2 separate regions of the Homo sapiens genome follow, and region 1 is linked to region 2. The links come from fine-mapping of genetic effects on plasma protein levels. A gene starts in region 2. The other region holds a variant in brackets. All regions are shown on one strand. Distances are between the middles of the regions.

Region 1 (14,457 bases), 84 kb after region 2:
CCTCCCACTATGGCCTCCCAAAGTGCTGAGATTACAGGCATGAGCCATTGCTCCCAGCCAAGATGATTTTTGTAAAATCATTTTTTGTCTAAATATAATCTTCACACATGATTAAAATTTTTACTAGGTGAAGAATTACTAATTGGAAACAATTTCCTCTGAGAATGTTGAAAGCATTATTCCGATGTGTTGTTGCTTCTAGTGTTGCTTTAGAAATGTCTGATTTCTAATTTTCTACATGTAACTTTTATCTGCAAGGTTTTCTCTTGGCCTCTTTTCTCTTGGTGTTTTAAATTTTAATGATATGCCTTATTGTGGATCTTCTTCCATTTACTGGGCTGGACTTTGTGAGCCCTTTCAATCTAAAATCTCATGCTTCATTTTTAAGACATTGCTTTCTATTATTTCTCACACAATAGCTTCCCTTGTGTTTTCTTTATCTCTAGGATTCCTATTAGTTGTACATTGGACATCCTGGACTGATTCTGTAATTTTCGTATCTTTTTTCTCCCATGTTCCCTTTATTTGTCTTTTGGTTCTGCTTTTTGGGAGATTTTCTTAACTTGATCTACCTGAGGCTCAGTCCTCATCTGTAAAATGCTGATAAAAGGACCTACCACCTAGCGTTGCTGTGAGGTGTCAGTGAAATAAAATGTAAAATGCTTAGCACAGTGAACTTTAATAAATGGTAGTTGTGGTTGCACATACTGTTATTCTGGAACCAATTTCTTGTCCCTCCTCATGTGAAAATGACAATCTTGGTTTACAATATCATACTATAATATTTGCCTTCATTGTAGTGAATTTGTAATGACATGGCATTTTCCAATTATACTGTTTTTAGAAAAAAATTCTATGGTATAAATCCAGTTAGCAACATTAATTCTTATTTATGCTTCTACAAACACTTAAAAGTATTTTTTTTCTTTTTTCTTTTCTTTTTTCCACTCTCCCCTCATCCCTGGGGTAGATGAGAACTGGAAAAATAATGCTGGGTATCCACTCCCTGACAGTGAAATAGGTAGTTTGGAGCCCCAATTAATTACTTTGTTAGGATGAGAGTGCAGATCAAACCTTTAACATGTGAGGGTTGCCGTACACTCTGCCTGCTATGCAGCCCCAAATAAGGCTGGCCAGTACCTAGGAGCACTGAGGAGGCTAATGGACAATTAACAAACATCGAGTCCAGAGGAGGCCTGGATTCTCTGTAAGCTTTGCAGCCAAAGGTGGCCCTGCCTGCCCACTTAGGGCCCCATGAAGACTAGAACTAGAATTACAGAAAAAGAATGTCTGCAAGTCAAGAACAATCTGGCTTTACTACTTTATTTTCATTCCTTCATCTGTTCAGTTGGGGGGCGATGTTAAAGCTATGTGACATGGGCACCAACCAGTCAGGTCAGATGCTGGCTATAATTACTTGGTAGGTTATGTATCAACCCTGGATTCAACAGATATTTATTGAGTGTCTACCATGTGCCAGCACTGTGCTAGCTAGGTACTGTATGATGCAGGGCAAGTTTCTTTCTTTCTCTGAGCTTCAGTTTGCTCACTTGTGAAAAAAAAGGAGTAAGTGATCTACAAGGGCTCCTTTAGGTCTAACATTCGCAATCAATAAAATAGTAACTTTTGATTGTTTTGGGAAAATAATGGAAACAGCTATAGAAAACAAGCAGCTGACCTAAGACTTGTAGATTTGAAAATGGGGGAAAAAACAGAAAATTATTCTGAGTTATTGTTTGACTTGAGATTTGGATTAAGAATCAGTTCTACATGTCTTATTTTCATGATGTTTCCAAAGGGAGACAAAGATAGCTCTAATCAAAGGGTGAGTTTGTTTTACAGCCTTGAACATTCAAGCTCCACCCCACTATCCCCCACCAACATGCATATACAAGACACCTTCCCCCTAAGGAGGCTACTACTTTCTTTTAGCATCCTCTCTCCAGCTGCTACACTTCAAACCCTTTCGTTCAGTGGTTGGCAATAGCTTGTCCACTCTGGCAAGAGTCCATGTTCCAAGCCTTTCTTAACTTCCTCTTTTCAGACTTGTCCTGCCTCATTTCCTGTTCCTTGTGGCCTCTGCCTCATAAGATGTTTGATCAATTCATCTTTGCTAATGTAGCCAAGGAGGGCTAAGAAGTTTGTGGGTTACCATTTCTGGATAAAATTCATATTACAAGGAGCCTCCCCAAACCATGCTACCACTTTTATGGTGGATTAAAAAAATATTATGGGAAAGTTCAAACATATATAGAAGTAAGGAGACTGTTACAGTGAATGGTCATATACCCATCAACTAGCTTCAACAATTATCAAAATGGTCAATCTTATTTCATTTATACTGCCACCCATTTCCTACTTCCTACATGACGAATTATTTTTAAGCAAGTCCCAGACATCACATCATTTCATCTGTAAATACTTTAGTATATATCTCTACAAACTAAGGACCCTTTTTGTTTTAAAAAACTGCAATACCATTATCACACTTTAAAACTAAACAATAATTGCTTAATATTCTCAATTATCTAGTCAGTGTTTACATTTCCCCAATTGTCTCATAAGTCTTTTTTTCCTACAATTTGCTTGAATCAGGATCCAATAAGGCTCACGGTGATTTTTTAAATAATGATGCTTTGTAATATACAGGGGTGAGAATTTGGGAACAAATGATTGTTTGGCCTTTAAAATCGTACTACATTGGCATTTAGGAATGAATACAGCCCTGCTGCCACAAAGTAGCTCTTTTTCCCTTCCAGATTGCTTTGACTAAAAATTTGTTTAGCATCCCATTGGATTCTGGAAATTCTTCTTGTTTTCTCTTTTCCTTCCTTCCTTCCTTCCTTCCTTCCTTCCTTCCTTCCTTCCTTCCTTCCTTCCTTCCTTCCTTCCTCTCTCTCTTTTTTTTCTTTTTTCTTTCTTTCTTTCTTTCTTTTTTTTTTTTTGACAGAGTTTTGCTCTTGTTGCCCAGGCTGGAGTGCAATGGTGCGATCTCGGCTCGCTGCAACCTCTGCCTCCTGGGTTCAAGTGATTCTCCTGCCTCAACCTCTCAAGTAGCTGGGATTACAGGCGCCCGCCACCACGCCTGGCTAATTTTTGTATTTTTAGTAGAGACGGGGTTTCACCGCGTTAGCCAGGCTGGTCTCGAACTCCTGACCTCAAGTGATCCACTTGCATCAGCCTCCCAAAGTGCTGGGATTACAGGCGTCAGCCACAGTGCCCAACAAATTCTGGAAATTCTTTATAAGCGTAGTCAGACATCTGTGAAGGAAGTGAAAACTGAAGTTTGGCCTTGAAGCTTAGAAGTTCTCACACAACCAAGACATAGTCTTCCTTAAAACAGAAAAAAAACACAGCCATGCATACACACACACACACACACACACACACACACACACACACACAAATGCCAACTTCTAATATGTCTACGGAATGTTTTTGCAAATGGTAGTACAGAGCATATCTGTGTTGTGTAATTTTTTCCCACATGATAAGGACCAATATAAACAAATTGGAAATGTGATACTAAAAGAGAGTACTTCAGCATGGATTAATTAAGACCAATATGGGGCAATCCTTTTCTGATATTTTACAATGCACTGAAAATTTTAAAGCAAGGTGGAAAAATAGGCTTATGGGTCTGAATGTTAGGTTGAGAAAAATTATCTGTGGTCAAGTGTGTGCTTTGTAAATCTGCTGAGTTTACACTTGATCATGCAGTTTTCTATAAGTTGCTGGCTTGAATACCACTGGGAAATATACAGACCATGTGACTATGAAACCAACCCAATTGTCCCACAGAGCTGATGTTTCTGATCTCTTTGAATAAACATAGAAATTGATCCTTCCAGTCTTAAAACTTGAGAAAGTTACATTTGTCTTATCTGAATTCCTTTCTCAGGAAACAAACCATCAGGCCTCCCAGAAAGTATCCGGGATCTGAAAATCACCAAATCACCACATCCGGACAGTGAGAAGCCAGATCCCTCACCCTTCTTGATTGGCTGACAAACCAACTGCTTCCTGTTGACCAACTCCTCTTCCTTATCCCTCCCTAATTCCTGTTTTCCCACACATGGTTTCACTTCTTCCCTGCTATACAAACACCTAATTTTAGTTGGTCAGGGAGATGGAATTGAGACTGATCTCTTGTCTCCTTGGCTGCTGCACCTGATTAAAGCCTTCTTCCTTGGCAATACTCATTGTCTCAGTGTTTGCCTTTCTGTGCAGTGAGAAAACAGGACCTAGATGGAACTCCTGCTGTTTTGGTAACATTACTACAGACCTCTCAGAATGGCTAAAATAAAAATAATGACAACACCTCAATAATAGTAAGGATGCAAAGAAATCATATCACTCATATATTTCTTGTGGGTACATAAAATGGTACAGCTACTCTGAGAAAGAGTGGCAGTTTGTTTAAAAACGAAACATGCAACTATCACATGGTCCAGCAATTGTACTGTTGGGCCTCTATCCCAGAAAAATAAAAACATATGTTCACACAACAAACTTTACA[T/G]AAATGTTTATAATGGTTTTATTCATAATTTACAAAAACTAGAAAAACTCAGATATCCTTCAATGGGTGGGTGAATGGTTGAACAATTTTTGGTACAGTCACATCATGGAATACTACTTAGCAATAAAAGTGAATGAATATCACCTCACGCTCATTAGAATGGCCACTATAAAAAAAAACCCATAAAATAGAAAGTGTTGGTGTGGATGTGGGGAAATGAGAATCCTTGTGTGCTATTTGTGGGATTGTGAAATGGTGCAACAGCCATGGAAAACAGAATGGTAGTTCTTCAAAAAGTTAGAAATAGATCTACCTAGGCTGGGTGCGGTGGCTTACGCCTGTAGTCCCAGCACGTTGGGAGGCCGAGGTGGGCAGATCAACTGAGGTTGGGAGTTCCAGACCAGCCTGACCAACATGGAGAAACCCCGTCTCTACTAAAAATACAAAAATTAGCCGGGCGTAGTGGTGGGCACCTGTAATCCCAGCTACTCGGGAGGCTGAGGCAGGAGAATTGCTTGAACCTGGGAGGCAGAGGTTGCGGTGAGCTGAGATCGTGCCATTGCACTCCAGCCTGGGCAACAAGAGTGAAACTCCGTCTCAAAAAAAAAAAAGAAAAAAAGAAAAAAAAAAGAAAAAAGAAAAAGAAATAGATCTACCATATGACTCAGCAATCCCACTTCTGGGTATTTATGCAAAAGCATTAAAAGCAGGGTCTTGGGATATTTGCACACCCATATTCATAGCAGCAGTATTGAAACATGGAGTCTGGGAGCAGCATTCCTATGATCAGTGTCTATGCTATTCCACTTTGTGCTTTTATTAATTCATTCAAGAAGGCTTTTGACGAATATAGATCGTGTACGAGATGCTGTAGTAGATTCAAAGAATAGAGCATGCTTTCTTTTCTTTTTTAAAAAATTGAGATGGTGTCTCACTATTTTGCCCAGGCTAGTCTCAAACTCCTGGGCTCAGGTGATCCTCTTGCCTGCCAAGTAGCTGGGACTACAGGTGCAGTGCATACTTTCTGTCCTATTATTGCTGATAGTCCAGTGCAGGAATGGCAAATTTGTTTCATTTTGTGGATCAGTTCTTCTGGAATACTGTTTCCCGAAGGATTTTGAGATTGGGTTTGGGCTCAGTGGGAAGATGGCTAAGATCTATCAGTGATGTCTCTTGTTGGGTACTGGTGGGGGGGTGTTGATGTACTTGTGCCACATGGTTGCCACCTTGGCTAAGGGCTAGAGTGACATATTTATGTATATAAATAATGGATTATCAACAAGACAGAATATTAGCAATTAGAGTTATGAAAGGAGGTCCAAGTAAAGTGCTGTATACAGGCAGTGGAAAAAATGATGGGGGTGTCGGGGCTGGGAGGATACCCAGAAAAGTTTTTTGAGGGCAGTGCTAGTTGGTCTGCACATTAAAGCAAGAGTAGAATCTGAAGAGATTAACAAAAGGGGGCATCCCTGTCCTCAGAAGGAGTTTGAGTAGAGTGGAAGGATGGATTGTGAGAGAAAGATGACAGAGATAAGCAGATGACCTAGGGATTAGGCAAGAGGTGGAGAGGATCCGCTCCATGCCTGGCAAACAGGAGAGGAGGACACAGATCTGAAGTAGTTTAGAGGTTGACTCACCAGGACTCCATGAATGGGAGGGAGATGCTCAAAATGTTATAGAGAAGCACAGGCTTGGGTGGGGAATGGGGAGTAGATGAGAAATACGAATTTCATTTTGGACATGTTCACTGTAGTATGCTAGAGGAACCATTAGGTTATGATTTCCTACAGGGTTGGGGACACTCACGGATGGCAATGAGAGGAGGGCAGCTTCAAGAGTCAGGGTTATGGGAGCCAGCTGCCAGGGAAAGACCAATGAGGTCATTCCCAAAATAAGACACATTGCAAGCCCTCTCAGCACAGTGTGAGGACAACCCAAATCTAAGCTAGCTCTGGGGGCAGTCATGGCATGGTAGGTTAGATGTCAAAGCAGAGACTTCATCACGAACTTGGCAGCCCAAGAGTAACACACTGCTGCCATCTGGGGGCTGCATGTAGAAATTGTAATGGCAGCTTTGTGAAAGCCACTTAATGAGAGAGGACATTATTTTGGAACCAGCAAGACCCTTCCTCTCAAAAGCCTTTTATAGTTCTTCCTTAAATTCTTTTCTGCCTAGTTCTACTTCTCTGTCCCCAATGAAGGAAACCATGGGTGCACATGTTCTGTAGCATATTTCCAGAAGGACTGAACCCCTGAAAGCAGAATACTTTCAGTCAGCTACAGCATCCTAGCACTGGATTGAGATACTCCATGCTGCTGCTGCTACTGTGCTCTAGCAACTGACCAAAGTTCTTGCCTGAACCACCCTCTGCCGGATCTCCCAAATCCCCTCATTTTGACTTCATCACTGCCTGGTTCTGACCTTTGATACTAGAATACTGAATTTTTGCCTCCAGGGGCACAATTTACTCTTCTATGTTTTCTTTTGCTAGCATCTTTTTCCTAAGTGGAACTGGATTTTCATTTACTCATTTTTCATTCAACAAACATTTATTGAGTGGCCACAGTGTGTCAGGTACTAGGATACATTTGGGAGCAAAAATAGATGGGTCCCCTCAGAAACCTGTATTACAGTCTAACTGTAAAGACAAAACAATCATTTTAAATGTGATAATTGCTATGAAGGAAAGGTCAATGATGCAGTGAGATGTAGTGAGGTGAGATGAAGAAAAGGTCGATGAGGCTGTGAGAACAGGTAACAGGGGATTCTGACCTAGTCTTGCAGGGTAGCAAAAACTTTTCTGAGGATGTGACATTTAAGCTGAAATTTTAAGGATTGGTAGGAATTAGCCAGAAATTAACTGTTCTGAAAACTATGAAACCTATAAGACTGGGAAAGAAGGGGCCATCCTCCTTGTTCCTCTGTCTTCTACAGTGGTAATACAGCAGGGAGATTCAATTGCTTTACATAGGACAGTCTCTAGGAAGATCTTTCATTCTGAATTAGCATGTCAACTACAGTGAAAACATGTCTAAAAAATAACAATTACAACAACTAGAAAATCAGGAAATGTAGAAATAAAGAACCCCCCCTAAAACTCCTCCAAATTAGACTGCCCTAATGAAAATAGGAATAGGTATAAACAGACAAAGAAATACTAATGTTCTTGAAGTCTTGAAATACTATCTTTTGGTTTATTTCTTTTCATTTTTATTTTTCATTTAAATAATTGAACCGATTTTTTATTTTTTGAGACAGGGTCTTGCTCTGTTGCTCAGGCTGTGGTGCAGTAATGTGATCACACCTCACTGCAGCCTTCAATTCCTGGGCTCAAGCAATCCTCACACCTCAACCTCCTGAGGAGCTGGGACTACAGGTGTACACCACCACACCAACTAATTTTTTTTTTTGTATTTTTAGTAGATACAGGATTTTGCCATGTTGTCCAGACTGGTCTTGAACTCCTGGGGTCAAGTGATCTGCCTGCCTCAGCCTCCAAAATTGCTAGGATTACAGGCGTGAGCTGCTGTGCCCAGCCGAACTGCTTTTTAAAAATCTCCATATACACTTATTTGAACAACTTGATCATAATTTCTGAAATCTTTTAACACATCAGACCTGAACCAAATCAAGATACCAAAACCCACCTGAGCTTCAGATGCCTCATTGGTAAAATAGGGATTATAGTATAGTAATAGCTACATCTTACGGCTTTTGGAGACTTAATGAGTTGACACTTACAAAGCACACCATTGCCCTGCTCATTGTAAGTGCATAATACATGTTAATATTATTATTCCAGGGCTGACCTGTTTGTAGAAGGTGTCAGGGGAAAATATTTCCAGGTTGATGGAACGTTGAGGTTGCTTCAACCCCATGCCATGGTTGGTTACTTCAGCTACGCAAGGACCAGCCCCGACATGAGAAATGATAAGTGAAAAAAAGAGAATCAAGCCCAGTACATAGCATATAATTCACCTGGCCTGCAGAAGTACACACAAAAGCTTATTCTGTAGTTCATATTCATAAGAGATATCCCCTCCCTCGTTCCTAACAGGTAATCGTCTAGTCTCTGCCTAAATCCCTGCAGCAACAGGGAGTGCCCTATTTATGGAGAAAGGCCATTTTATTTATTGATAGTTCTAATTTTCTGGATCTATCTTCAAATTCCAGAGTAAAAAGTCATTTTTATCATGTATCTTCCCATTAATCTTCCTTATGCCCTGGAGAACCAAACAGAACAAAAAAAGTCCTCACTCAAAATTGGCAAAATTGAGTAAGGACATAGATTACAATATTGCATCAACTATCAAGTGTCCTAATTTTGGTAATGGTCTTCTATAAGAATGGCTGTGTCCCTGGGAAATATGCATTGAAGCATTAGGGAGTAAAATGGCATGATGCATGTGACCTGCCTGCAAATAGTTCCTAAAAAAAAAGAACATTAATATGTAAGTAATGAGAGAGAGTGATAAAAACAAATTGCCAAAATATTTAAAATTGGTGGGATCTGCATAGATGGTGTATGGGAATTATTTGTTCTACTTTTACAACTCTTCTGTAATTTTTAAATTATTTCTAAATAAAAAGTTAATAAAAATCCTGGGCTGGGCATGGTGGCTCACGCCTGTAATCCCAGTACTTTGGGAGGCTGGGGTGGGTGGATCACTTGAGGCCAGGAGTTTGAGACCAGCCTGGCCAACATAGCTAAACCCCATCTCTACTAAAAATACAAAAATTAGCTCGGTCTGGTGGTGCACACCCATAGTCCCAGCTACTCGGGAGGCTGAGGCAGGAGAATCGCTTGAACCCTGTAGGTGGAGGTTGCAGTGAGCCAAGGTGGCACCACTGCACTCCAGCCTGGGCGACTGAGCGAGACTCTTTCTCACCAAAAAAAAAAAAAAAGATAGTAAAAATCCTCTCTCTTCCATAGCAAAGCTCTTCAAAGGTTTGAGAGCAATTACCACATTTATTCTGTTCTACATTTCCATCTCACTTATTTGCTTACTCTTCACTCATTCATTTATTCTTTGATAAATATTGATTGAGCACTTGCTTTGTACTATGCCCAGAGCTGGGCACTGTGGAAGTGGTGGAGAAGAAAGTCAATTCTACCTGGCTCTCATGGAATTCAGGGGCACTTGGTGGAGTCCAAAGGTAATCAAATTATTCTACAAGTAATTGTATTATTTCTAACTCTGATAGGGCTATGACATAAGAATCAGGGAGGGTGGGATGGTATGAGAGAGCCTGCCAGAACGTTCTGAACCTGCTAAGTGGACCCAGCATTTAAGGTTGTAGGGGTGCAAAGGGCAGTGTGCCAAAGAGATTAGCATTCCTTTATGAAAAATCTCTTGGCTGAGGGGAAGGATTTGTGAGCCCAGGTGAGCAGCTTTGGACAAGCTGTTCCATTTGTCAAGTTGTTCCATCTGCTTCCTTAAGTGTCACAAAGTATTGAAGAGAGATTGCCTGGGCTTGAATGACAGCTGCTGTTTCCTAGCCATGTAGTTGTGAAAGAGGATAGCAGAGCCTTGGTGCCTTCACGCAGATTGAGACCCTTGTCCCCCATCAATCATAGCTATGTCTGATGGCATGGCTATGGCAGTTGGGTCCCTTGCCACACAATTTCAAGCCTGGGCCTGAGTTGAGCCCAGATGAGTCCTGGGAACAGAAACTCCAACAGGAATCATGTCAGTTTCTGTAACAGGATTTGCCTTGCAACCTAGATGAGAAAACTGAGCTTTAGAGTCATCAGCATGTATTTTTTTTCCCAAGAAAAATAGCCATTAAATGTGGGGGTGGATTTGAAGATCAAGCTGAGAATGTGCATGTGAAGCTTAGCACTTAGAACATAATATGCCTCCAACAAATGGCAGCTATCATTCTTTTCATCACTGATACCAAGGTGGGCTGAGTGAAGAAAAATGAGGTGGCTGAGGATGCTGGATATTTAATACCTCCAGGGCACTGTCAAGGGACAGGGGACAGGGCTCCAAATGGAAGGATGCAAGAACTTGCTTTTTTTTCTTTTTTTTTTTGAGATGGGGTCTTGCTCTGTCGCCGAGGCTGGAATGCAGTGATATGATCTCGGCTCACTGCAGCCTCCACTTCCTGGGCTCAAATGATCCTCCCACCTCAGCCTCTCGAGTAGCTGGGACCACAGGTCCACATCACCATGCCTGGCTAATTTTTTATTATTTGTAGAAATGGGATCTCCATATGTTTCCCAGGCTGGTCTTGATCTCCTGGACTCAAACAATCCTGGCACCTTGGCCTCCCAAAGTGTTGGGATTACAGGCATGAGCCACCGCACCCAGCCGAGAACTTACTTTCACCCATCTCATAGTTTTGCTTGTGATGATCACCTAGTATTCTAAACAGTCAGTACTCGAACTCTAGTGCAATATTATTCATTCAATGAATGTTTATTGAGTACTTGCTATATGACAGACACTGTCCAGGTGCTGGGGCTACACAAGGAAACAAAACAAGTGAACACTTAGCTTCATATTTCTATATACCATGAGAGTTTTCACAGTGCTTTCATGTCCATGATTTCATCTGTTCCTCATGACAATACAATGAGATAGGTCCTATTATTATTTTCATTTTATGGGTGGGGGAACTGATATATCCAGAGATTAATTAATTAACTCAAGAGCGATAGAACCCAGGCCCCAGGTTGTAGTTTAATGCTCCCTTCACCACACACACATTCGGAACGGCCACCATCCTGATCTACCTCTTGCCAGTCTCCCTCTTGCCAGTGGGCCCCCAGGGCTTTCCAGCCTGACTTCTGCCTCTGGACCCCACCCTCCTCCCCCACTTGCTCTAGATCTTGTCTCTGCCACAGCAGTCCAGCTGATCAGTCAGCAAGGATTTCTGAAGCACCCAGCACCATGATTTTACCATGATTTCCCAAAGGGCTACTTGGGTCTCAGTCATTTCAGTCAATCCAGACCAGCAGGCTGGCCTACATTTTCTGAGGTGTTGCAGCTATGCAGAATTGGTTGGACTTTTTGCTGGGCCCCTCTATGGTGGTGCTTTGGGAGGGCACTCTCCTGTGTTCAGATAACTGGGGCAGAATTAGAGGAATTAACAAAATAACAGTTTTGGATGCCAGGTTCCCCATTAGGAGTTTGACTCTGCACTCCCTCAGATTTGGTGGCGTGTGCTCTCCTGCTGGTAATACACTTCCTGTGACCTGGAAATCCTACTGCTATATTCCTTAGGTTTGGCCAGACTTTAAAACCCGCCAGATCATTGCAACTTAAGCAACTTCTAAGAACATCTCTTTACCAGGTGTTATTTAGAGAACGCAAGAGATTTACGTCTGCTCTGAAATGTTACATTGGCACTATATAAACTTTCCCAGTACACAAAGCTCTCAGGCTTTTGGACATGTTTTCTCCTATTAAGTCATATAAATAGCTTAATAAAACAGTATTTGGTTAAACATCATTTGAATTTCCCACTGAATGATGGTTATATTCAACTCCAAGAAAACGTGGAAAGTGCAAAGGCTTTGGAATTAGACGGATCTGTTTTCAAAACATTACGCCACCTCTTAAAGCTGTGTGACTCCAGGCTTCTTACTTAACCTCTCCGAGTGTCAGTTTCAATTACACATACCATGCCTGTAATCCCAGCACTTTGGGAGGCCAAGCGGGGTGGATCATTTGAGGTCAGGAGTTTAAGACCAGCCTGGCCAACATGGTGAAACCCCAACTCTACTAAAAATACAAAAATTAGCCAGGCGGTAGTGGTGCACGCCTGTTATCCCAGGTAGTCGGGAGACTGAGGCAGGATAATTAGTTGAGCCTGGCAGACGGAGGTTGTAGTGAGCTGAGATCACGCCACTGCACTCCTGTCTGGGCAACAGAGTGAGACCTTGTCTCAAAAAAAATGCAATTGTATTATTTTCATGTATGGTATCTAGAATAAATGGAAAATAGGACAATAACAGACATACAACAGGGACTCAGAATTAATGTATCTCATAACGAGCTTTAGAAAGAAATAATAACAGATGCCAATTATAAAGCACTTACATGTCAAAAAACATACTCAGCTGGGTGTGGTGGTAGGCACCTATAGTCCCAGCTACTCGGGAAGCTGAGGTGGGAGGATTGCTTGAAGCCAGGAGTTGGAGGCCACAGTGAGCTATGATGAGTACAGTGAATGGCCACTGCACTTCAGCCTGGGCAACAGTGAGTTCCCTTATCTAAAAAAAATATTCACAAGGTATTACAAGGATAATCTTCTTTAATATGCACAGTAACATTTTAGCTAGATGATATTATAATCTCCACTTACAGATATGGAAACTGAGGCCCAGAAGGATTGTGAAACTAAAACTTAAGTGGTAGATGCAGAACCTATTTGGTTTTGCTGTAGAGCCTGCATGCTTTACCACTATTTCCCTATCTTTAGTGCTTTGCACAGGAACCAAAGAAGCACGTCTTTTAGGAAAGTCAAATCTTTTTACTCTATCCAACACTCTCTCCACTCCTATTCCCTCTTTTAATCTTACGGACACTTAATTTAGGAACCCTTTTCTTGAAATATCTGGAATCAATAGCCTGGCTCAGTCCAATATTTTAACAATTCAGTGTAGTCCACATACACTCAGGTGAATGAGTTTAATGTTAACAGTTTATTGAAAATAGAACAGATATACAGAAATGTGCATAAAACATGTATGTAGATTTTTAACAAATCGTTAGAAAAGAAATACCCATGTAACCACCAAGAAAGATCAGAAATCAAACACTAGGATGCCACAGAAGCCCTCTGTGGTTCTCTTTTTAATCAAAGCTCTTCTCTCACCCCCAGGCGGAACCACTAGCCTGACTTTTATAGGAATAGTTCCATGCTTTCTTTTAGTTTTTGATCATCTCTGTATGCAAGTCTAAGCAATATAGTTTAGGCTCACCTTTGTTTGAACTTTATATAAATGGATCCACACCGTAAATATTCTTTTTCTAAAAAAATCTTTATTGTGATATAGTGTACATCTTTAAAATTCATCCTTTGAAAGTGTACAATTCAATGGTTTTTAAATATATTCAGTTACATGACCATCATCACAATCAATTTTAGAACATTATCATCACCACAGAAAGAAACCCTGTACCTATTAGCAGTCACTCCCTTTTCCTTCCTACCCCCAACCCCTGGCAACCTCTAATCTACTTTCTATCTATGTGGATTTGTCTCTTCTGAATATTTCATATAAACAGAATCATACAATATGTGGCCTTTTGTGTGGCCATCTTTCACTTAGCATAGTGTTTCCAGGGTTCACCCATGATGTAGCATGTAAAAGCACTTCTTTCCTTTTATCCATTCATTAATTGATGGACATTTGAGTGGTTTCCCCTTTTCGGTTATTAATAATGACACTATGCACATTAGTATACAAGTTTTTGTGGCCGGGCACAGTGGCTCACGCCTGTAATCCCAGCACTTTGGGAGGCCAAGGCGGGCAGATCACGAGGTCAGGAGATTGAGACCATCCTGGCTAACACGGTGAAACCCTGTCTCTACTAAAAAATACAAAAAATTAGCTGGGCGTGGTGGCAGGCACCTGTAGTCCCAGCTACTCAGGAGGCTGAGGCAGGAGAATGGCGTGAATCCGGGAGGCGGAGCTTGCAGTGAGCCGAGATCACGCCACTGTACTCCAGCCTGGGCGACAGAGCGAGACGCAATCTCAAAAAAAAAAAAAGTTTTTGTATGGACATAGGTTTTCATTTCTTTTGGGTATTCACCTGGGAATAGAATTGCTGGGTCATATAGTAATTCTATATTTAACCTTTTGAGGAAATTTCCAAACTATTTTCCAAAGTGACTGCACCATTTTACATTCCTGTGAGCAATATTTCAGGATTCCAATTTCTCCATATCCTTGCTAACACTTGTTATTATCTGTCTTTTT
Region 2 (14,950 bases):
ATCAGATTAGTTAGATACAGAGTATCCACACAAAGGTTCTCCAAGGCCCCACCAGAGCAGCTAGATACAGAGTGTCGATTGGTGCACTCACAAAAACCTTGAGCTAAACACAGGGTGCTGATTGGTGTGTTTACAAAACCTTGAGCTAGATACAGAGTGCCGATTGGTGTATTTACAATCCCTGAGCTAGACATAAAGGTTCTCCAAGGCCCCACCAGAGCAGCTAGATACAGAGTGTCGATTGGTGCACTCACAAACCCTGAGCTAGACACAGGGTGCTGATTGGTGTGTTTACAATCCCTGAGCTAAACATAAAGGTTCTCCAAGGCCCCACTGGAGCAGCTAGATACATGGTGTCCATTGGTGCACTCACAAACCCTGAGCTAGACACAGGGTGCTGATTGGTGTGTTTACAATCCCTGAGCTAGATATAAACACTCTCCACGTCCCCACCAGACTCAGGAGCCCAGCTGGCTTCACCCAGTGGATCCCGCACTGGGGCTGCAGGTGGAGCTGCCTGCCAGTCCCACGCCATGCGCTGGCCCTCCTCAGCCCTTGGGCAGTCGATGGGACTGGGCGCCGTGGAGCAGGGGGTGGCATTCGTCGGGGAGGCTCGGGCTGCACAGGAACCCACGGAGGCGGGGGAAGGCTCAGGCATGGCGGGCTGCAGGTCCCGAGGCCTGCCCCGTGGGAAGGCAGCTAAGGCCCAGCGAGAAATCGAGCACAGCGCCCGTGGGCTGGCACTGCTGGGGGACCCAGTACACCCTCCGCAGCCGCTGGCCTGGGTGCTAAGCCCCTCACTGCCCGGGGCCGGCTGGCCGGCCGGCCGGCCGCTCGTAGTGCGGGGCCCTCCAAGCCCACGCCCACCCGGAACTCCAGCTGGCCCGCAAGCGCTGTGCGCAGCCCTGGTTCCTGCTCACGCCTCTCCCTCCACACCTCCCCGCAAGCTGAGGGAGCGGGCTCTGGCCTTGGCCAGCCCAGAAAGGGGATCCCACAGTGCAGCGGCGGGCCGAAGGGCTCCTCAAGTGCCGCCAAAGTGGGAACCCAGGCAGAGGAGGCGCTGAGAGCAAGCGAGGGCTCTGAGGACTGCCAGCATGCTGTCACCTGTCAATACCAAATTGCTCCTGTTTCTATGCTCGCAGTATCATTGTCTTTGATAAAGATAGATACGATAGATTATATATAGTTTGTTTTTTAGAACTTCTGAATAATATAGAGGCATTTTGTTATTGTAGATGCAAGCAGTCAGAAATATATTGCATTTCATCTACCTTGTAAGTTGACATTGTAGTTTTGTAATAAAGAAATTTCAAAAATTACCAACAGTGTCTATTTAAAATTTACCGTGAAGAATGATAGCACATGCTGAGTTGTCATCAAAATATTGGACTCTCAAGTTGTCGTGAGACTCGATTGAAATATGGAAGTTCGGCACCTCTGTTTATTTCAATCCAAGTGTGGAAACCACCAGAAAACAGAAAAGCACCCAAAACTCCACCAAGTGCCAATGTTCCTCCAGTGACACAATGAATCTTGAAAGTACGTCATGCTACAAAGGACATGAAAAAGCAAAATCTAAAGCAACTAGAGAAAGGAATCTCTACAGCAATCAAATACCAAATTAGAAGAAGGCTTTTTGTTGTCGTTTTGTTTTGTTTGAAGAGTTTTTGCTTTTTTGGAAACAAAATGTTTTGCTTTCTCCATGCATCATGAAGGAAACAAAAATACACAGCTTGTTAAATTTAGTTGCGGCTCTGTCACAACAATGATGACAAAATTTTCCTCTGACCACAATGTGTTTGAGTACAAATGGTTCCTCTTTCCAGGCTCTGGCCTGTGCATACACAAATTCCTAGTGAGGTGAGACCCACTCCCCCACAGCGGGGCTCCTTCTTTTTTTTTTTTTTTGAGACGGAGTTTTGCTCTTGTTGTCCAGATTGGAGTGCAATGGTGCGATCTCGGCTCACTGCAACCTCCGCCTCCTGGGTTCAAGCGATTCTCCTGTCTCAGCCTCCCGAATAGCTTGGATTACAGGCATGCGCCACCACGCCCGGCTAATTTTGTATTTTTAATAGAGGCAGGGTTTCACCATGTTGGCCAGGCTGGTCTCGAACTCTGACCTTAGGTGATCCGCCCGCCTCGGCCTCCCAAAGTGCTGGGATTACAGGCATGAGCCACCGTGCCCGGCCCTACTTCTTGAGAGTGGAGAGTGAGGATCCAGCTATCCTTCATACATGAAGGTGCTAAGGAATTCAACTGTATCCTAGTTGGTGAACGCTATGGCCTTTAAACTCATTCACAAAAACCGGTGATCCCAGCTGATCTAATTCCACCATGGCCAGCCAGGAGTGGTGCCCAGCGTTGGCTATGTGTACCTTTGCCAGCTTGTGGAGTGGGGATCAGTAGACAAGGCACTCCTCCCTGATCCTGTCCCTGCTGTGCCACCAAGCCCCTTTACATTGACTCTCTTCCCCAAAAGGGCTTCATCATTGCAGCTTGTGCATGTAGCTTGCCTGGGGATGAAAGGGTAAGAGGAAACAGGAAATTGAGTGGCAATAAAGGAGAAATGAAAGAAAAAGGACTAAGAACAAATGGGACAATGTCAGCAGAAAGGAGAACAACAGAAGCGGAACCTCAAGAGACAAGGGAACTGTAAAGATGAAAGAGTACTAGAAATTCTAATAATAGTTCCCATTTATTAGTGCTTATTATGTGCTAGGCACTGGATAAGCATTTTATGTCAGTTTCTTCATCTCATTTAATCGTTACAATAAACCCTGTGGTAGGCACTATTATAGCATTATGCCTGGTTTACAAAAGATAAAACATGCTCTTGTTATTTAAAAAGGCCAAAAAAAAAAAATGCCCACAACATTTAACACAATTCTAGAAAGAAGATAAAAAGAAACAGAAAAATGGGACAAATAGAAAGCACAGAATCAGATGGTAGATATAAGTATAAATATATTAGAAGTCTGGCTGGGTGTGGTGGCTTATGCCTGTAATCTCAGCACTTTGGCAGACCAAGGTGGGAGGATCACTTGAGCTCAGGAGTTCAAGACCAGCCTGGGCCACGTAGGGAGACCCCCCCATCTCTACTAAATTAAGAAAAAAGAAAGAAGTAAATCTAAGTGAACTAAAGTCTACAGTTAAAAGACAACAATTGCCTATTGGATAGAAAAAACCGAATTTGCACTTTATGCTGTTCCCAAGATCAGACCCAAAACATAATTGCACTGAAAGGAAAATAAGGATGTAAGAAAATGTACCAGGTACATACTAAACAAAAGAAAGTTAATGAAGTTATAATAAATTAGTCAAAATACACTTTTAAGACAAAGAATAGTACTTCATTAATGAAAGGTACTTCATAGTGATAAGTGGTTTGGTTCACGAGGAAACTATAACAATTCTAGATTTGCGTGTATTTGATGAAATAGCGTCGAAAAAGATATATAAAGCAATAATTAACAGAATTATAAGAAGAATTTGACAAATGCACCCTCATAATATCATAGTGAGAATCGTTAACACCCTCAGTAATTAGCAGGTCCAAAGGAACAAAAAACCAGCAAGTATGTTGATTTGACCAACACAATCCACAAACTTGACTTAATGGAACGTATAGAACACTGGGCCCAGTAATTGGAGAATATGCATTTTCCTCAAACACTCATGGAACATTTACAAAAACAAACTATATGTTGTGACATAAAGCAAACCTCATCACACTCGCAAAGATTGGTACCATCCTGGAAACTGGGAATAAGAAGTTAAGGAGGGGTCCTTGCTTCTGTGGCTGAGAAGTAGCAAGGCTGGTGCAGCATAGCACCAGGGATGCCAATGAGGTCACACTGCAGTCAACTTGCTCTATGACTGAGGGTCGGAAAAGGCAGTCCAGGTCAACGACTATGGGAAAGATGGGTTTATGCAGGGACTGAACTGGGGTGGGTTTTGCTGCTCCTCCAGAAGCCTGGTATTTTCCAATCCACAAATGAGGCCTCAATTCTGTGCTTGCACAGGGATCTGTCCAATAGCTAGATATGCAGAGTGACCTCTGGGGATGCTATTGGGATATGCAAATGACAGCATTAATGGGGTGGAGTTACAGATATGCAAAGAGCCCCCTCCTTGGAGAGGTGTTGTGGATTGGGGCAAGAGGGACTAGAGGCTTCTTTGTTTAAATGAAAATACTAATTGCCCTACACTTTCAAAGCAAACAATGGAGACCTTTCAAGGCAAGAAGGTGCAGGTGACTAACACACAAATGGAGCATTTGAATCTTTCTTTCTTTCTTTTTTTTTTGAGACAATCCTGCTCTGTCGCCCAGGTTGGAGTGTAGTGGCGTGATCTCGGCTCACTACAATCACCTCCTGGGCTCAAGCCATCCTCCAGCCTCAGCCTCCAGAGTAGCTGGGACTACAGCATATGTTACAGTTCCTGACTAATTATTATTATTTTTTTTGGTATTTTTTGTAGACATGGAGTCTGGCCATGTTGCCCAGGCTGGTCTGGAACTCCTGTGCTCAAGTGATCTGTCTGCCCCAGCCTCCCAAAGTGTGAATGTTTAAACTGAGGAACCCTAAGGCCGAGGAGAGATCCTAACGCCAGGGAACTGAGTGGCAAAGCACTAACGGGGCTGGTAAAGTGTACAAGGATTGGACCTGTCCTGCCTGGACCAGAACAGGGGACAGGCCCTACATAGAGTTTTAGATCCAGGGTGGGGAAAGTGCAGTGAAAAGGTTGTAGGGGATCCTGGCTAAGATGCCAGGGTAGTGGTAGTGGCAGTGATGATAGCAACGCAGCCAGAAGCCAAAGGAGGGGACCTGGATGCTAAGACACAGAGGCCCTTCCTCTTTCAGAGACTGAAGTGTTGGAAAACAGAGCAAGGCCAATTCCAGAGAGGAAGGGTTGGCAGCCTGGAGGAAGTGAGGCCAGGGAGCTTCTGAAAGGAATAATGAATGCTTTCAAGGGGAGCAAGAGAGCGTAGGGGCTCCAGGCCCCAGGAACATGCTCCTGTGTAGAGCAGCACCCCAAGTCATTTTGCCCAGGGAAGAATCAGCCTCCTGGCACCTGGGCTCTGACTGATGGAGCCAGCAGTTTGCCTGGAGGCTGGCCCTGTCCCTGGCTGCCAACACCTCAAATATTCTTTCCTGGGCCTTCTTACCTCCAGACAAGAATTAACAAACTCTTGGTAATTCATCTTAGAAAGCAAAACACCACGTATTATGTCAGCATCTTGTTTGTAAAAAGCCTGCTGTGACTTCTTATTGCTTATGAGGTCAAGCCATAAACTGACTGCTCTCTCTCTCTCTCTCTCTCTCTCCTCCTAACCTCCCTCTCTCATTCTGGTCATCCTTCAAGGTCTAGTTCAACTCCCATCTACTGTACGAAACCTTCAAAAGCACAGGCCTGTGTCACCTTTCTTTGAACCCATATCACAGATGAGCATTTGTACCATTTTTGTTTGTTTGCTTTTTACATTTTCTCTAATTGCTCTCTATACCTTTCCACAACTTAGACCAGGAGTTTCCTAAGAGCAGGCCTTTGGTTTGTTGGTTGGTATTCCTCACAGCACCTAGAAAAATGTACAATTTATTTATTCAATTAAAATATATTTATTGAGCATGTATTATGTGCCACATATAGTTTTGAGTGCTGGGGATCCAGCTGGGAACCGATCAGAAAAAACTTCTTGCCCTGATGGAGCTTACATTCTAGTGGAGACAGCAAATGACCCAGGAAGCGGAAGGAGAGAAAGGAAGTGGCCATGGGGCTTGCAGTTTTCAATGGGGTGGCCAGGACAGGTCTCAGTGAGAGATCTGACAGAAGCCAGGGAGTGAGGCATGAGGATATCTTGACGGGGAGAGAGCAAATAGCCAAAGAAAAAGTCAAGGCAAAGGCCCTCGGGCAGGAGTGCACTTAGCTTGTGTGAAGAACAGCCAGGTGGTCAGTGTTGCTGGAGGAGAGTAAGGGAGCCAAGGAGAGCAGTAGGAGAGAAGGTTAGAGAGATAATGGGGTCAGATAGGGTAAGGCCTTGGAAGCCATCTTGAGGACTTTAGCATTGGAGATTTCTGGGTAAAGGGAGTGCCTTGTTGAATTAAAGAGTCAATTTAATAACTGCTGTAGGCTGGGTGCAGTGGCTCACGCCTGTAATCCCAGCACTTTGGGAGGCCAAGGCGGGCGGATCACCTGAGGTCAGGAGTTTGAGACTAGCCTAGCCAACATGGCGAATCCCCATCTCTACTAAAAATACACAGATTAGCTGGGCATGGTGGCATGTGCCTGTAATCCCAGCTACTTGGGAGGCTGAGGCAGGAGAATCTCTTGAACCCAGGAGGTGGAGGTTGCAGCGAGCTGAGATTGCACTGCAGTCCAGTCTGGGCAACAGAGCGAGACTCCATCTTAAAAAAAAAAAAAAAAAAAAAAAAAAACCTGCTGTAAAGTTTGGAGGCCCACAGGTCTACGGGTTTCAGGACACTGACCCAGTCACCTAGAAGCGTGCCTACTCTCAGGCAAAACCCAAAGGGTCCTGTCAGTGGCCTCTTGTGCAAGCAACACTCCCTTGAGTGAACTCCACTAAAACTGTAGAAGAAAACCACCTGCTGAAGAGCAAGGACCTTTAATTCAATTAAACCCAAACATTGAGAATGAGTTATGAGCCACTAACCATGTTCCATTCATCTTTATATTCTCTGTGGTGCCAGAGGATGCCTTTCTCCAAGCTCCCCCGACTCAATCCACTCAGAATCTAAGTAAGAGTAGAGCTCTTGCTGTACATACATGGCTCCAAGACAAGGCCCCTGGGGATTGTTCCTTCCAATCAGATTACCACCACTAAGCTCCTCCTAGGTAGAAAACCTGGAGTCACCCTGGACAGTCTGACCTCCAGGAGCTTGAATCCAGTGGCAGAAATAGACATGCACACAAACCTCTGTGTGATTTGATATGATAGAGGAACGTGTCTGGTGCTATGAGCACACACACAGGAGGGAGCAAAGAATTTTGCATTTGGGAGTTAGAGAAGCCCCTAAAAAATGTGACACTTGAGAAATGGAAAAGCATTTTAGATAAAGGGAACAGCAAGATAAAAGGTTTGCAGTGAGAAAATATCACAGGTGACAAACAAGAACCGGGCAAGTCATAAGTGAGGAAACGCTGACTAGGCCAGGGAGCAATAGGGAGCCCTAGGGCATGTGCAGACAGGAAGTACATGCCCTGTTAACAAGGTGGCAGCCCATCTGACATCTGCTGACGGTTTCTACACTGAAACAGGTCCAATATTACCAGGACTTTTGATTTATTAAGAGAAGCTGGAAATCTGGGGCCTTAGGCAAAATCTCCTGACTTAAAAAAAACACTTTGGCATCTAGATCCCCATGAATTCCAACATGATATGGACCAAACACAATTGCTCACAAGGGAGATTCAGCCTGAAGGTGGCCAGTCAGCCACCTGGAACCTGGAAGCTTGGCTGGAAGTGAAGCTAGGAAGAGTGTGGGGAATCTAACCTGAAGAGGCAAGCCTGCAGGCAGAGGAGTTGAGACTGCCTTTTGTGGCATTTGATGAAGGGAGGGGTGTCACTTAAGCTTAAGCTGAGGAGTGACATGGACAGATTGCTCATTGGGAAGATCTGTCTTGTAAAGGGTAGACCCTCATGGCCAGTTTGAAGACTGTTTCTGGAATGGTAATAAAGTCCTGAAATAGAACCATAGAGGCGAAACTGGGTGGTCGGGGGAGGAATAGATCTGAGAGATGTTTTACCATCTAATCAGTGACTGCAGGACTAGACAGTGGATGGGGAACTGGGGGTACGAGATACAGGAAAGGGAGTTGTCAAGAGTACATACTTTTAGCATTCATCTCTAATTTTGGCCAGGCATGGGGGACAGTGGGTGGGTGGGGACCAAATACAAAAGACAACAAAGAGTATTCTAGCTTAGGATCTCTCTCACCTTTGGCGCTGTTGTCATCTTGAGTAGAGTAAGTCTTTGTTGTGGGGGCGGTCGTGTGCATTGTATTAACAGCAGCATCCCCAGCCTCTACTCACTGCATTCCAGAAGCATGCCCCCGCTTCAGTCATGACAACCAAAAATATCTCTCCATATTGCCGAATGTCCCCTGGGATGTAAAATTGCCCCTGGTTGGGGGCCACTGATCCAGAATCGGGAGGGAAATTCCCTGTTTTCAACTTCTCCTTTTTCTTTGTTTTGCAGTGGTGTGAGGTTTTGCTTAGAGGACTCTTTGTGAGATTTTTGTCTAAGGGACCAGCACTTTTAGCTAAGCCCTTGGAATATGCTGGTGTCTGTGTCCCTTTTGGACTCAGGAAGGTGTCTCTAAATGGATGGAAGGACACCTGACTTTGGAAAGAGGGACATCATTCTTTCCTGCCAGACATTTTCTTGCATATGCCCTTTTCAGCCTCCAGTTACAGAAATGGACGAAGACTTAGTGAGAAGGGCAAAGGTCAAAACAGTTGAGTGGAGTGGCCTAGGTACACAGGGCAGCGCAGAACTCCAGCCACCCCGGGCCAAAGTGAAAGAAAGGCCACTGGTAGTCTCGCACCCAAGTCATCAGGACTCTAAGGGTTAAACTTGATGTTGACTCATCATGATTTTGATTTACACAAAGCCAAACTGAAAGCTCCTTGTCTACTGCAGTTCCTGGAAAGCCTTCTATCTGTCTTCATTCTTCCTGCAGACCAGGGCAGTGGCCTGATTCAATCCAAGACGCTCTTCGAATCACACTACACGGAGATTACAAATACAAGTTTTATGTTGAAGAAACAGCATTCCTGACTCTTTCCACCCCCTTCCAAAAATTTGAAAAATCGTTGCATGATGTTCAGGGTCGGGAAGAAAGGAAAGTAACAATATAGTCTTAAGGCCAGCAGGCCGGAACTATCTTGGTGAAAAGAAATCAGGTCTCTCCCCTCTCCACACTGCCGTTTGTTTTTTTTCCTCACGATGTTCAGATTCTCAGGGCTTTTCTGGAAGCTCATGACAAGCTGCAATCCCTATTTTTCTAATCATTTGCTACCATTACTGTTTTATTAAGCGCTTGGTCAATCTATGCCAAGCAGTGCCCATGATGGCACTCAGCCAGTCCCCAGGGGCTCCTGTTCCAACTAAAGACTCCTTAAAAGGCAGATGACATAACCATTTTGGAAACGTTATTATAAACTTATTGTATAATGTTTATAGCAAATGTCAACAAGTGTATATGTCCGTGGTGGTGGAGGAAAGGCCTTGGGATACACAGTGGCTGACCTATTTGTGGGAGGGATTTAGAAATAATGATACTATCTCTCAGTTCTACAGGCCTTGATACTTTACAAACTGTTTTCATAAACATTATTTTGTTCGATAACACATGCAAGCCAGGATTTATTTTTTTTTTTTTTGAGAACGGGGTCTCACTCTGTTACAGACCCAGGCTGGTTTTGAACTCCTGGGCTCAGGTGATCCTTCCACCTCAGCCTCCAGAATAGCTGGGATTACAGGTGCATGCCACCATGCCTGGATTCTGGAATTTATTCTGAACCGTTAGCCAAAAGAATCAACATCCTGAGATTCAGCACAGGCAGGCCCTCCTCCTGGAAGCTTCCCTTGCTCCTTCCCTCCCAAAAGGTACCCTTTTTGTATCCCATAATTCCTTGTTCTTGCCCTTATCATTGCCCCTCAGACTGACTGCAGCTTTCTGTTAGCAGAGCTTGCTTTTGGTGAGTGTCTTCAACAGTTCCTGGAACAATTTCATAAATATTTATTGAGTTTGAGAGCCTTAATTCCAAGAGTGGAACCTTTGTTGTGAATAGGTTAAACAACCCTGTGCCCTTTGGGTGGGGTCTAGACTAGGTATATTATCAGCATTTTTATTGCTATACTTTTTGTAACTGTTTTCAGGTATATGCATTGGCTTAATTCGGCCAAAATACACCTCATTATGGGTCTCATCATCCACCTAGACATGATTCTTTTTTGGGAGAAGGTGATAGAATAATGTCCCCCTCCCATGATTCCATATCGTGATCCCCAACACCTGTGAATATGTTAACTTACATAGCAAAAATGACTTTTCAGTTATGATTAAATCAAGGATTTTGAGATGGGGAGATTATTATGAATTATCTGGTGGACCTAATCTAATCACAAGGGTATTTATAAGGGAAAAGGGGAAGTAAGAGGGTCAGAGTCAGATACGACAAGGGAAGCAGAGGTCTGAGTAGTTCCGCAACAAGCCAAGGAATGTGGGTAGCCTCTAGAAGCTGGAAAAGTCAAAGACACAGATTCTCCCCTAGAATATCCAGAAGGAATACATCTCTGCCCACACCTTGATTTAAGCTCAGTGTCACTTCTGACCTCCAGAACTGTAATAAAATAAAACTGTTAAATCACTAAATTTGTGGTCATTTTTGACAGCAGCAACAGGAAACGCCTAAGGACTCTTGTTTTCCTTCCTCCCAGCCTCACTGACCCTCATAGGCGCCCAAGTATCAATGTGTATTCTTCCGATTCACCTCCCATCCCTTTGAAAAATATGTAGAAAGTTTGTCGTGTGCTTTAAAAAATGCACGTATGGTATCCTCCCTCATGTTTGGAATGTTCCTTTTAAAATCAACATTATGTATTGCCAGCTTTCAAATATGCCCTTTGTCCTTTTCACAAAGCACAGTACTGCCAGTGTCCCCAACTCCACCCAGTGAAGTAGGGCTGGTATTACTAACCCTGGAGTCAGCGCTAGCAAACAAGGGCTCAGAGGTCAAGGGCTGGAAGCCAGGTCTCCAGACTCCCAGGCCAAGGCTCTTTTCCGCAGATGACTCTGTCCTGGTGTCCAGCAGGGCACAGCCCCTAGCACCTCCGAGGCCCCGCAAGTGTGCTGGCAGCGGCGACGCCGGCTCCGCCACGCGGAGGGAGGAGGCCCAGGCAGCGCCCGGAGTGGGCGGCGACGTGGTGGAAGAAGTTTTGTTCGGTCAGAGACCGGACGCGGGAGCTGCGGGTGGGCCAGGTGTCCAGCCTTGGGAGCCGTAGGAGCCGCCAGAGCCGCCAGAGCCGCCGGCGCCCCGCCCCGCCTCCTCCGGCCGCTCTCGCCGGCTCAGGTTACCTGAGGCCGGTGGGCGGGGCGGCCCTTCCCGTCTGCGCCGGCCCCCAGCCTCCAGGGCGGCGGAGCCGGGAAGTGGAAGAGGGAGCGAAGGAGGCGGGGACTGCCAAGGCTCCAGCCCGGCCGGGCTCCGAGGCGAGAGGCTGCATGGAGTGGCCGGCGCGGCTCTGCGGGCTGTGGGCGCTGCTGCTCTGCGCCGGCGGCGGGGGCGGGGGCGGGGGCGCCGCGCCTACGGGTGAGTGCGACCCTCGGGGCCCGAGGGGCGGCCGGAGGGCTGAGGGCGGTGAGGGTCACGGCTGAAAGGCCCCGGAGGTCAACGCCGGGCGGAGGGCCGAAGCTGGGGTGGGTGCTGGGGGCTGCCCTCGCGAGGCCCCGCGCTCGGCGGCTGCGGCTTCCCGCGCGGGATCTCTGGGGCCCGGTACTGGGGCCGGTTCGAGGTGGGACCCGGGAGCTGCGGGGTTTTCCCGAACTCCGGGTGCGGCGGAGGTGGCGGCAGCGAAGTAAGAGGGCTGCGACTTGTAGTGGGAAGAGCCCAGGAGGCTGGCGTCCAGGCGTGCGGGGGCGGGGGGCCCGAAACATGCCCACGGCGTCAGAGGGCCGTGGGTCAGCGCCCGGAATGTCGCCTGTGAGCCCGGGAGGAAATGAGGCGCCAGAGCCGGCGGGGACCACGACCGAAGTCCAGGCGAGCTGAGAACGCGCCGGGGCTCTTTGCCCGAGGCCGCGCCAATCCTCACTGTCTAAGGGTGGCTCTTGCGAGTGGAAGTTGAAGGGAACCTCTAAACATCTCAGTCCTTGTTGAAAAAGGACGTGACGCTCATGACCTCCTCTGGCGTCGAAGAAATCCTTTGGGAAATCCAGAATAGCATCCCGGCAGATGCTCCCCCCACCCCACTCTCTTTAATAAACCTTATATTTTAGGGTAATTGTAGATTTATGGAAAAGTTGCAAAGATACTTCAGAGAGTTGTGTATATCCCTCACCCTGTTTGGTAACTTCTAGTTAATCAACCTGGCAGTTGTGAAAAATTGGGAGTTAATGACTTCCTTAGGAGCAGCTCCTGGAAGGAATGGCCTTCTGGACGTTTTTGGTGACAATGAAAGCCCCAAACTGTATAGGTTTTATTATCACATTGACACAAACACTTATATATGCTTATTGCATTTTTACCAATGTGCTTTGAAATCCAAGTTGAAATGTTGATTAGGAAACCTTAATGCCCTCTATGGATTCAGTCAATAAAATACATGCTGCCAGGCAGTGTTTAGGGGCTGAGGATGCAGCAGTGAGCAAAACAGATGAGGTGCCTGCCCTCAGACATATCGGGGGGTGGGGGTAAAATATATGATATGTCTGAGGGTGTTAAGTAGAGAAAAACAGAGCAGGTGGGAAGGGGTTTGCCATTGTAAAAAGGGTGGATCGAGAAGAAAACAAATGTTGCTGAAAGGTGGCATTTGAGTAGAGACCTGAGGGAGACTTGAAGCTTGTCAGTCAATAATTATTCAGGTGTCTGCCTTATTTAGTACTGAGTCAGGCCCTCTAGGTTGACTTAGAACCTGAGAGTGTATAGCAAAATTCTTGCCCCAAAAGGGCCTCTAGTTTAGTTGGGTACACCTGATTTCCGTAATCATATGGGGACATTGCAGTCCAGAGAAGGGAAGGAACTTGTCTAAAGTTACCCGTCTCATTAGTCTCCTGATTTTCACAGTGCCACTCCAGCACCCTCCCTCCTACAGACTCACTCCCACACACACCTGAAACAACAGCTGGCCATCTAGAGAATACTGGCAACTCCCAACTTCATCAGTCCTGTCACAATGGTTTGTCGTTAGCTTGCTTATTTAGAAAACAAACTTCTTTCCCCATTAAAAGTATTGATAGAATTGCATTGAGGTATGGTGGGAAAAAATTAGATGTTTCCAGTGAGACTTGAGTTTTAGTGGTTCTGATATTTACCACCTGTGGGACTCTGGGCTGGTCATTTCCTCTCTTTTGTGCTGCAGTTAGTTTTCTCATCTGTGAAATGAGGAGGTTGAACTGCATAAATTCTAAGAGCTCCTCCAGCTCTAATCCTCAGAGTGTTTATAAAAGTGATTAGATTACTAGCTTAGTTTAACCTGTCCCACTCAATGGCCCACATTGTGGCATGTCTTAATTATAACTAGCATGTATATAGCATTTATGCCCAGCAGTTTTCTAGCTGCTTTACTTGTACTATTTCATTTAATCTTTACCAATAATATAACTTGTAGGTGCTGTTATTAGTCCCATTTTGTACACGAAAAAGTTGAGGCACAGTGCGACCAAGACCCTTGCCCAAATTCGCATACCTGGCAAAGTGGAAGAGCTAGGTTTCCAACCCTGGCAGCCTGATTCCAGAGGCCATGCCCTTAACCACTGTACTCATTGCTTCTGCCCAGCAGAAAAGACGAGAGTCCTTAGCTGGACACCTCCCAGGGTAGCAGGGCAGGACGGCTTGGGACCCACGAAAGTATGTGCAAGCCATTTGTTAAGAAGCTAATGATACTATATTAGGCCGGGTGCAGTGGCTCATGCCTGTAATCCCAGCACTTTAGGAGACTGAGGCAGATGGATCACTTGAGGCCAGGAGTTTGAGCCTGGCCAACATGGCAAAACCCCGTCTACTAAAAATACAAAAATTAGCCGAGTGTGGGATTACATGCCTGTAATCCCAGCTACTCAGGAAGCTGAGGCATGAGACTCATTTGATCCTGGGAGGCAGAGGTTGCAGTGAGGGAAGATCAGGCCACTGCACTTCAGCCTGGGCGACAGAGCAAGACTGTCTCAAAACAAAAAAAGAAGCGAATGATACTACATTGGAGACTGGCTTTATAGTGGCTGGGCTGTGTGGTCCAAACAACTAGTACTATAGGCATTCAAAAGAGAAAAAGCTGACGGTTGGTAGTGTTATGGAAGAGGTAAAACTTGAGCTAGATCTTCTGGATGACTGGGATTTGAGTAGGTGGAGAATTTATTCCAGGTGGGGGCAATAGCAGGAGCAGAGACCCAGAAATGAGGGCAAGAGTGCTCCTTTGTGGTCAAGAAGGAACCTGGCTTGGCAGGAGAGTGCATTGGTAAAGTCAATCCAGGCAGAATAGCTTGATTTGCCCTTGAAAGCTCTGAGTCCGGCACAGCATGGGAAAAATAACACAGAAGGAGGAAGCAAGCAGGGAGACTTCACTGGGTAGGGGAGCCCCTGGAGTGTGAAGCTACATAAGAATCTATGGTTGCAGGTCTCCACTAGAAAAATGTGCTGCGAACCCTTCCTGTCCAGGACCATGACTTACTGGTATCTTCCCACCTGGTGGGGCACAACAGAGCATATTTGCATGATTGGGGTAACTAAGAAAGATGTTGGAAGAAAAAAACGAACAGGAGTTGATGCCTGAGTGGATGTAAGGGAAGGGACAGATGACTCATATATGACTCTTGTGATTTCCTTAACTTTTCCCAAAATGTGCATGCCTCTGCTAGCTGCTGTGATTGGACAGGCGAGAGCAAAAGCTATAAGCTAAGCAAAATGCCTTCTTATGAAATAGTAGATTGTGTTAACTCTTAATTTAAATAGGATGTTGTGCTAGATGACTGTACAGACTTGGGATTTGAGGTTTAGATACAGACATACTTGGGTCCCTTCCTACTCCCTTTTCTGAAGTCAGTGGTGCAATCCCCAAGACATGGTTGAAATTAGGTGCCTAAGGGAAGCTTATCAGGTAGAAGGGATACTTGTTCTGTCTCAAAGGCCAGGGACACATATCAATTCAACAGAAAACCAAAGCAACCCTGGCCAGGCACAGTGGTTCACACCTGTAATCCCAGCACTTTGGGAGGCCGA

Alleles and levels. Positions count from the first base shown, and alleles are read on the strand shown. Strength reflects both the effect of a copy and how common the allele is.
In carriers of allele T in region 1, the plasma level of the protein whose gene starts at base 11,212 in region 2 tends to be lower than with G alone (weak association).

The links. PIP is the chance, under the fine-mapping model, that this variant and not a neighbour inherited with it causes the effect. The UK Biobank Pharma Proteomics Project read protein levels with antibody pairs (Olink). The fine-mapping took linkage between variants from a reference panel, not from the people measured, so its PIPs are less certain.
Region 1: its variant is fine-mapped to the plasma level of the IL13RA1 protein (UK Biobank, PIP above 0.99).

The regions. Positions count from the first base shown.
Region 1 is chrX:118,801,031-118,815,487 of GRCh38, forward strand. It overlaps a transcript of IL13RA1 not described here. Among named protein-coding and RNA genes, the nearest start is that of ZCCHC12, 16 kb to the right of the region's middle. The variant T/G (reference allele first, on the strand shown) is at 4,520.
Region 2 is chrX:118,716,395-118,731,344 of GRCh38, forward strand. It overlaps IL13RA1 (interleukin 13 receptor subunit alpha 1), which reads left to right and starts at 11,212. Exons shown (of 11, transcript NM_001560.3): 1 at 11,212-11,332. The coding sequence starts at 11,245. RefSeq lists a silencer at 10,821-11,250.